Linked DNA regions of Homo sapiens. The protein of the gene in region 2 interacts with the protein of the main gene of each other region in a biochemical or structural test. Each region holds a gene or a part of one and is shown on either strand. Other genes may lie near its edges.

The links.
Region 1: of the proteins of ALK (region 2) and PTPRB, one has a biochemical effect on the other in vitro, tested with the Homo sapiens proteins (one large-scale study listed by IntAct).

What each region holds. Positions count from the first base shown.
Region 1 is NC_000012.12:70,567,774-70,571,591, forward strand, and holds part of PTPRB (receptor-type tyrosine-protein phosphatase beta), read right to left. Parts: intron 3,678-3,818; exon of another isoform or gene 3,517-3,677; coding exon 3,253-3,516; exon of another isoform or gene 2,166-3,252; coding exon 1,902-2,165; exon of another isoform or gene 1,725-1,901; intron 1-1,724. UniProt on the Homo sapiens protein: Plays an important role in blood vessel remodeling and angiogenesis. Not necessary for the initial formation of blood vessels, but is essential for their maintenance and remodeling. Can induce dephosphorylation of TEK/TIE2, CDH5/VE-cadherin and KDR/VEGFR-2.
Region 2 is NC_000002.12:29,221,813-29,225,630, forward strand, and holds part of ALK (ALK tyrosine kinase receptor isoform 1 precursor), read right to left. Parts: intron 3,754-3,818; coding exon 3,649-3,753; intron 2,012-3,648; exon of another isoform or gene 1,717-2,011; coding exon 1,530-1,716; intron 796-1,529; coding exon 705-795; intron 597-704; coding exon 532-596; intron 1-531. UniProt on the Homo sapiens protein: Neuronal receptor tyrosine kinase that is essentially and transiently expressed in specific regions of the central and peripheral nervous systems and plays an important role in the genesis and differentiation of the nervous system.

The DNA.
Region 1 (3,818 bases), on a different chromosome or scaffold from region 2:
ACAGGCAAACAAAGCTCTTTGTGATTTGGTCTCTCTACTTACCTGGCCACATGCCTCACATTTTTTATTCTAGTATACTTTTGCTTTTTATACTTTTAGTAGAGATGGGGTTTTGCCACGTTGCCCAGGCTGGTCTCGAACTCCTGGACTTAGGCTATCCACTCACCTCAGCTTCCCAAAATGTGGGATTACAGGCATGAGCCACCGTGCCCGGCCTTTATTCTAGTATACTAAAAAAGGTGTAGGTTCCCAAATGTGCCATCCTTTCTCTCACCTCCAGGGCTTTGTTTTCTCTGTTGGAACGAAGACAACTTACACTTCACCTGGATGACTTCTTAGTCTTTCTTTAAATATTACTTCCTCCTGAAAGCCTTCCCTGACTCTTCTTGTTTGCTCCTCTAACATCTCATAACCACTTTTTTCTTAGCACGTACCATGTTTTACTGTAATTGCCTTTTTACTTTTCTATCTCCTTCACTAGATTATAAGGTTCTTGAGGTCAGGGGCTTTGCCTTGCTACTGAATGCCCACTTTCTTTTTTTGGAGACAGAGTCTCACTCTGTCACCAAGCTGGAGTGCAGTGGCATGATCTCAGCTCACTGCAAGCTCCGCCTCCTGGGTTCATGCCATTCTCCTGCCTCAGCCTCCCGAGTAGCTGGGACTACAGGCGTCTGCCATCACACCCAGCTAATTTTTTGTATTTTTAGTAGAGACGGGGTTTCACCATGTTAGCCAGGATGGTCTCAATCTCCTGACCTTGTGATCCACCCACCTTGGCCTCCCAAAGTGCTGGGATTACAGGCGTGAGCTACCGCGCCTGGCCCGAATGCCCACTTCTAACACAGGATTTGTCATAGGGTTAAAGATATGCAGATATAGATATAAATATAGATATGAAATAGAGGCATAGTAGGGCATGGTATAGAAGCCCCAGACCCCACAACTAAATAAGTGGTCATGAGAATGGGAGACATCTAAGAAGTATTGTGTCACAGTGGAGAGGGCACGAGGTTTGGGGCCAGACAGACCTAGACTTGAATTATAGCTTTAGGTCTTGTTATATACGTATCCTTGATACTGTTTTACAAGCTTTCTGAACTGTTCTTTCCTCATCTGTAAGAGAACTATAGTATGGCTAGAGATCTTTCAAAAATAATACATGAATAGTGATATTGATATAAACAGATATATTATTCATACATTTGATACTTGTTTTTTTAGCTCTACCAGGTAAAGTAGATGGCACAGATGTGTACTCTTTCTTAAAAGGTAGAACTTTTGAAAAATGCATAATTATGGAAGTCTCCTTATTAAAATTTATTTATTTATTTATTTACTTATTTATTGGGACAGGGTCTCACTCCGGTTGCCCAGGCTGGAGTGCAGTGGCACGATCACGACTCACTGCAGCCTTGACCTCCCGGGCTCAGGTGATTCTTCCACCTCAGCCTTCCAAGCAGCTGGGACTACAGGTGTGCACCACCACGCCTGGCTAATTTTTTGTATTTTTAGTAGAAATGGGGTTTAGCTATGTTGCCCAGGCTAGTCTCGAACTCCTGAACTCAAGCAATCTACCTGCCTTGGCCTTCCAGGGTGCTGGGATTACAGGCGTGAGCTACTGTGCCCAGCCTGCTTGTTAAAATTTAAAATTTTATTATCCTTTAGCAAGTATAAAAATGTGTTCAAATGATTTGGTTTCTGATTCCCTTTCATTTGTTTTGCAGATCTCTATTAAGAGAAAAATACAAAGAATAAATGAGTAAGGCTCTTGAAACCATTGAATTGTACAAACTTTGGTGGTTTTAAATCTGGATTTGTGAATAGCTGAGCCCGTTCACTGTCCCATTTTGGAGAACCATGAGGCATTCTACAATCTAGCCCTTCTCCAGGTGGATGCTTACCTGTCCGCCCAACCACATTTATCTGATTCTTCAGGGACCCGCTGACTGAGGCAATCATGATCTGGTACTGCTCCCCGGCCTCCAGTCTGTGGAACGTGTGCTCAAAGACGTGCTTGGGAATAGTCTGAGAGTCAACCTTTTGACTGTGCCTGAATGCCGACACCGTGTAGGAATCAACGTCTCCCCCACCAGGAGTCCAGTTCACCGTCAGGCTATCTGTTGCTCCATTGGGAGAAATGTGAATATTTTTGACAGCACTAGGAACTAAAACAGAAAATAAATTTAAAAGTCATCACTTAGAGAATGAACTGTTGAAATTTTCAAACAAAGTTTTGAATGCTTCTGATGTTTTGGCACCCACTGAGAGAACTCACATGAAAAAGAAAGTAACAATTTGCCACTTTTCTCTGATTTTTCTGTGTGAACTAAAGTTGATGGGGGAAAGCTTAGGGGGAAGTCAAAGCCGGTGAGTGGAAATGAGGAATGCTAATTATATAGCGAGGGGCTAGTTAGGGTGTCTTGGTCCAAGTTTTGGTTTTCTCACTCACTAGCTGTGGGACTACAGGCAAATTACTTGACCTCTGTAAGTTTTAGTTTCTTCATTAGGAAAAATGGCAGTGATGATAATACTAACCAGCCCATAGAGTTGTGAAGATTGATTCTTTTTTAATTTAATTTTATTTTATTTTTGAGGTAGGGTCTCTGTCTGTTGTCCAGGCTGGAGTGCAATGGCATGATTATGGCTCACTGCATCCTATACCTCCTGGGCTCAAGTGATTCTCCCACCTCAGCCTCCCCAGTAGCTGGGACTACAGGCACGTAACACCGTGCCCGGCTAATTTTTTTGTATTTTTTGTAGAGACAGGGTTTTGTCATGTTGCCCAGGCTGTGCTTGAACTCCTGGGCTCAAGCTATCCTCCTGCCTTGGCTTCCAAAGCATTGTGAAGACTGAACAAGATGTAGACATAAAATGCTTTGCTGTGGGTCTGGTTCATGGTGAACTGTCAGTACATGTTAACTACTATGGCAACACTCCTAAAAGAGTTCTAAAGAAGTGATACCCAAGTAACACTTAATTCTTAATCTGTGTGCCTCAGAAGCACCAGCTGATCACATCAGTTCATTGCTATTTCTCTGAAAGCACCCTCCAACCCCGCCACTCTCTGCTGACATCATACTTTATTTTCATTCATCCAGGTTGGACAACATCATTGTCACTATCAACATGACTTTGTCCCTTCTTGCTGTCTCCCTTTTATCCCTCCAAATGCTCAATCGAAATACCTGAACTACCCGAAAGTTAAATGCACCACTGCATCTATTCAGGTTCAAGAACAGTATTTCACATTACCTGTGAAGCCCTCAATGAAGGCTGACTGCTGTACATCCCCGCTAATCGTCAAGACAAGAATTTTGTATTGGCGGCCTGGTGTTAGGGAAGTAAATCGATACTCGGTTGCGGTATTTACAAGGTGAAAAGGAGGAAATACTTTCATGTCATTGAAGAGCAGCTGGATCTCATATTGGTCGACATCCCCATTAGCTCCTGACCAAGTCACATGCAAGTCCTCAGTGCTCCTGTTGCGCAATGTTAGATCCTTAACAGGCTCTGGAACTAGGGAGAAAAATGAGAAGACATTTCAGGAAAGGAACTGATCAGAGTTTACCTACATAATAATTTATGAATCACATTCAAGGAACTGGCAACATCTCCCTTCCCCAAATAAACCACTAGCACTACTTCATGCATAATTAAACAAGAAAAATTGGAAGCAACTATTAACATTGTGGTTTTTTCCTGACATAAATGTTACATGATCAGCATTGGTAGAACATAATTATAAAATGAGTTATGATCTCAATCATAAGATAAAACAAGAAGTCTAGAATCTAAATGCCATGATGCAGGAAGATAGG
Region 2 (3,818 bases):
GAGGGGATCTGCTGTCACAGCGGACGCCCTCAGGAGCCATAGGCACTGAGACTCTCAGCTTAAATCCAGATCTTGGAGCCTCAAGTCAAAAGGTGCAGCCAGCTGAGACTCAGCCCTGCTGATGGGAGCCTAGGATGGGGTGGCCTCCCATCATATTAGAAGCACAATTACTGGGATTGGTGAAGGGTCTTGGAGGGAGATTATATCTTGTACTGTCAAAGTCTAGCATGCTCCATTTCTTAAGAAAAAGTGAGGGAAGAAGAACCAGTGGATAACAGCAGGGATACTGGTTGCAGACAGTGACATCGGTGGGATTATTAGGCCACACAGACTTTGTTTCTGAAACAACCATCAAGGGTTGTTCCATTCTGGTAAGAAGTGTCTAGAATGTTTGGGAGTCTCCTACTGGAGAAAAGGGGACATGCTAGGGACAACACGATTTCCCTTGGAGATATCGATCTGTTAGAAACCTCTCCAGGTTCTTTGGGGGCAGAGGGGAGTTGGGGTGAGGGTGTCTCTCTGTGGCTTTACCTGATGATCAGGGCTTCCATGAGGAAATCCAGTTCGTCCTGTTCAGAGCACACTTCAGGCAGCGTCTGGGCAGAGAAGGGGAGGGTGGGGAGGAGGAGGAGGCTGTGAGCTGAGAACTGCAGCCTACAGAGTCCGCAAGCCAAGGGCAGGCTCAAGAGTGAGCCACTTCTTACCTTCACAGCCACTTGCAGGGGGCTTGGGTCGTTGGGCATTCCGGACACCTGGCCTTCATACACCTCCCCAAAGGCGCCATGGCCCAGACCCCTGTGCAAAGGAGAAGACAAGAGGAGACAGAGTCAAACAGGCCACAATAATGAGGCAGCTGGGGGTCCTGAGCCTGGGCGTCACATTTAGTGGACAAACACGAGAGGCGGGGGTAACATACACACTCAGGAGTAATACCCTCAACATGGCTTTGCTATGCAATCTCGGGCTTCCAGTTCTTCACCTGAAAACTGGTAAGAAGGATTCCAACCAGGGACTCATGACAATGGTCAAATGTTTATTCATTCAATCAGTAGTTATTGAGTCTCTGATATTTGCCAGGGACACAGGGGTGCATAAGCCATGGCTTTTCCCCGGGGGAGGTTCATGCTCCTTGGGGAGAGACAGATCACTGTGGGTACTGGCTGGGGAGTATTTCCAGTGAGTGACAGAGGAAGGCGCAGTTGCTCTAGATGCTCAGAGGAGGGGCCCTTTGCTCCCCTGCTCCCCTGGAGGGAAGGGGAGCCAGGTAGACTTGGAGAGAGCACATCTGAATGAATTTTGAGGAGAGCCCTGGTTCTCCTCTCATTGTATAAACTCCATAAACTATGGGAGTTAATGTAAGCCAACATACATGGCCCTGAATGTCAAGGCTTGTCCTCCTAGGAGGGCTAGGGGTGCCCATAGGGAGGGCTCTGCCGGCCTTTTGTGGCTAGAGGAGTCTGCGGTGCTGTGATAACATTCAGCCCCTACACTGCACCCCTCTCCTCCCAGGACGGCAGCAGGGCGCTCACCGAATGAGGGTGATGTTTTTCCGCGGCACCTCCTTCAGGTCACTGATGGAGGAGGTCTTGCCAGCAAAGCAGTAGTTGGGGTTGTAGTCGGTCATGATGGTCGAGGTGCGGAGCTTGCTCAGCTTGTACTCAGGGCTCTGCAGCTCCATCTGCATGGCTTGCAGCTCCTGGTGCTTCCGGCGGTACACTGCAGGTGGGTGGTCAGCTGCAACATGGCCTGGCAGCCTGGCCCTTGAAGCACTACACAGGCCACTTCCTACAGGAAGCCTCCCTGGATCTCCATATCCTCCCCTGAGCTCTGAACCTTTCCATCATACTTAGAAATACTAATAAAATGATTAAAGAAGGTGTGTCTTTAATTGAAGCATGATTTAAAGTAAATGCAAAGCTAAAAATCAGATATATGGAAAATAATTATTTGTATTATATAGGGCAGAGTCATGTTAGTCTGGTTCCTCCAAGAAGCAGACTGGAGATGGGATTAGACCCAATATGGTCTGCAGATTTTATTAGAAGAAATGCCCATGAGAGGAAATGGGGAGGGAGCCAGGGAAGGCTGGGTGAACCAGCAGACTGTGTTGCAAGTATAACCCCACGTGAACGAGGGAGGGAGGGAAGGTTGGGTGGAAGCACCCTGGGTGCCATGGAGCCTAAGGAAGTTTCAGCAAGGCCCTAAGGGGTTCTGGAGCCAAAGTCAGTCATCAGAGGAGTCCCATGACTCCCAGGAATTGGCCTGCCTTAGTATTTCTGCTGTGCTCAGCCATTGGGTAGGGCAGCTTCAGTGCAATCACAGCAGTGGATTTGAGGGTGCAGCTGGGATCTTGGTCAGTTGTGTTTCCTATAGTTGGAGAACTGCCAAGCCACAGAGTTGGAGAAGAGCCACATCATGAAAAGATCTCTGAATTGGTGTCTGGGGATCTGTGCTCTAATTCCGCCTCTTGTTACTTACAAGCTGAGCCATGAGGACCAGGTCACAGGACCTCTTTGGACTGCAGTTTCCCTCTCTGTAGGCAGGGATGGTAACTCCTGCCCTGTTTCCCTAACCACTGCCACTCCCCACCCTCTAGGGTTGTCAATGAAATGAATTCACCAACATAAAATGGTTTTGAAAAATCCTAAAGAGCTCTACCAATGTGAGTGACCATTATCACTCCTACATGTGAGGATGTTCTGGAAGGCAAACTCCATGGAAGCCAGAACAAAATTGTGATTCAGTGGGTAGATTCTGTGTGTAAAGCCCAGCCCCCCAACACATGGGCCAGGGCAAATGAGTCACCCGCTATGTGCTCAGTTCCCTCCTCTATGCAATGGACCGACCGTGATCAGATTAGGGTTACCTGAGGATCGAATGAATTGAAATGTGTAAATTGCCGAGCACGTAGTAACCATGCAACAAGTGTTAGCTCCTATTATCCTGTCCCTTTGAGGGATGGCACCATATGGGGACACAGTGTGTGCTGCCATCTCCCTTCTACCGGCAGATCCCTTTGCCTGCAGGGGCCTGGCCTGCGAGGGCTCTCAAGAGCCTTTCCCTCTGCCCTTTTCAAGCCTCTGCCCATCTGTCCTGGGCATGTCTCTGCCAGCAGTAAGAGCTGGTTGGGACCACACTGAGTTCTCTGTGACCTGCAGGTCAGCTCACCTTGGCTCACAGGCTGAACAGAAATATACTCAGAAACCGATTTTCCTATCTCTCTGCCTGGAGGGTGGTGGAGGGCTGGTTTGGGGAAGAGTGGGCTAGTGCATTACATAGGGTGGGAGCCAAACAGGAGCTGCGCCGGTGGAAGCATGTGGGAGCTAGAAGTGACGTCTAGGGGTGGGGGCGAGCTTTCACCATCGTGATGGACACTGAAGGAGCTCCCCACCCCCTGATCAGCCAGGAGGATACACACGGGGCTGAGGTGCAGAATCAGGGGCTCCTCAGGGAACTGCAGCTGCTCTGGTGGGGGGAAGGTTGGGAGCTTCCGTTTTGGCTTGGCCTGGGCTGCCCTAATCACCACCCCACCCAATTCCAGGGACTAGCATAACGAAGTGACACCTTGGCACCTGTGGCACAGCCTGAGACACTATTCAGTCCTGCCTTCCTGCCCCCTTGGGAGTCCCTGGGGCTCTGTGCACTCACCAATCATGATGCCGGAGAAAGCCAGGACCAGGGCGGCCACGAGGGCAGAGGTCACCACAGAGAGGATCAGCGAGAGTGGCAGGTGTGGCTCCGGGGTGGGTGACACTGGAAGACAGGTCCCACTGGGGTATTGACAACCACACCAGGTCTCCTTTGAGTTGGTCCCAAGT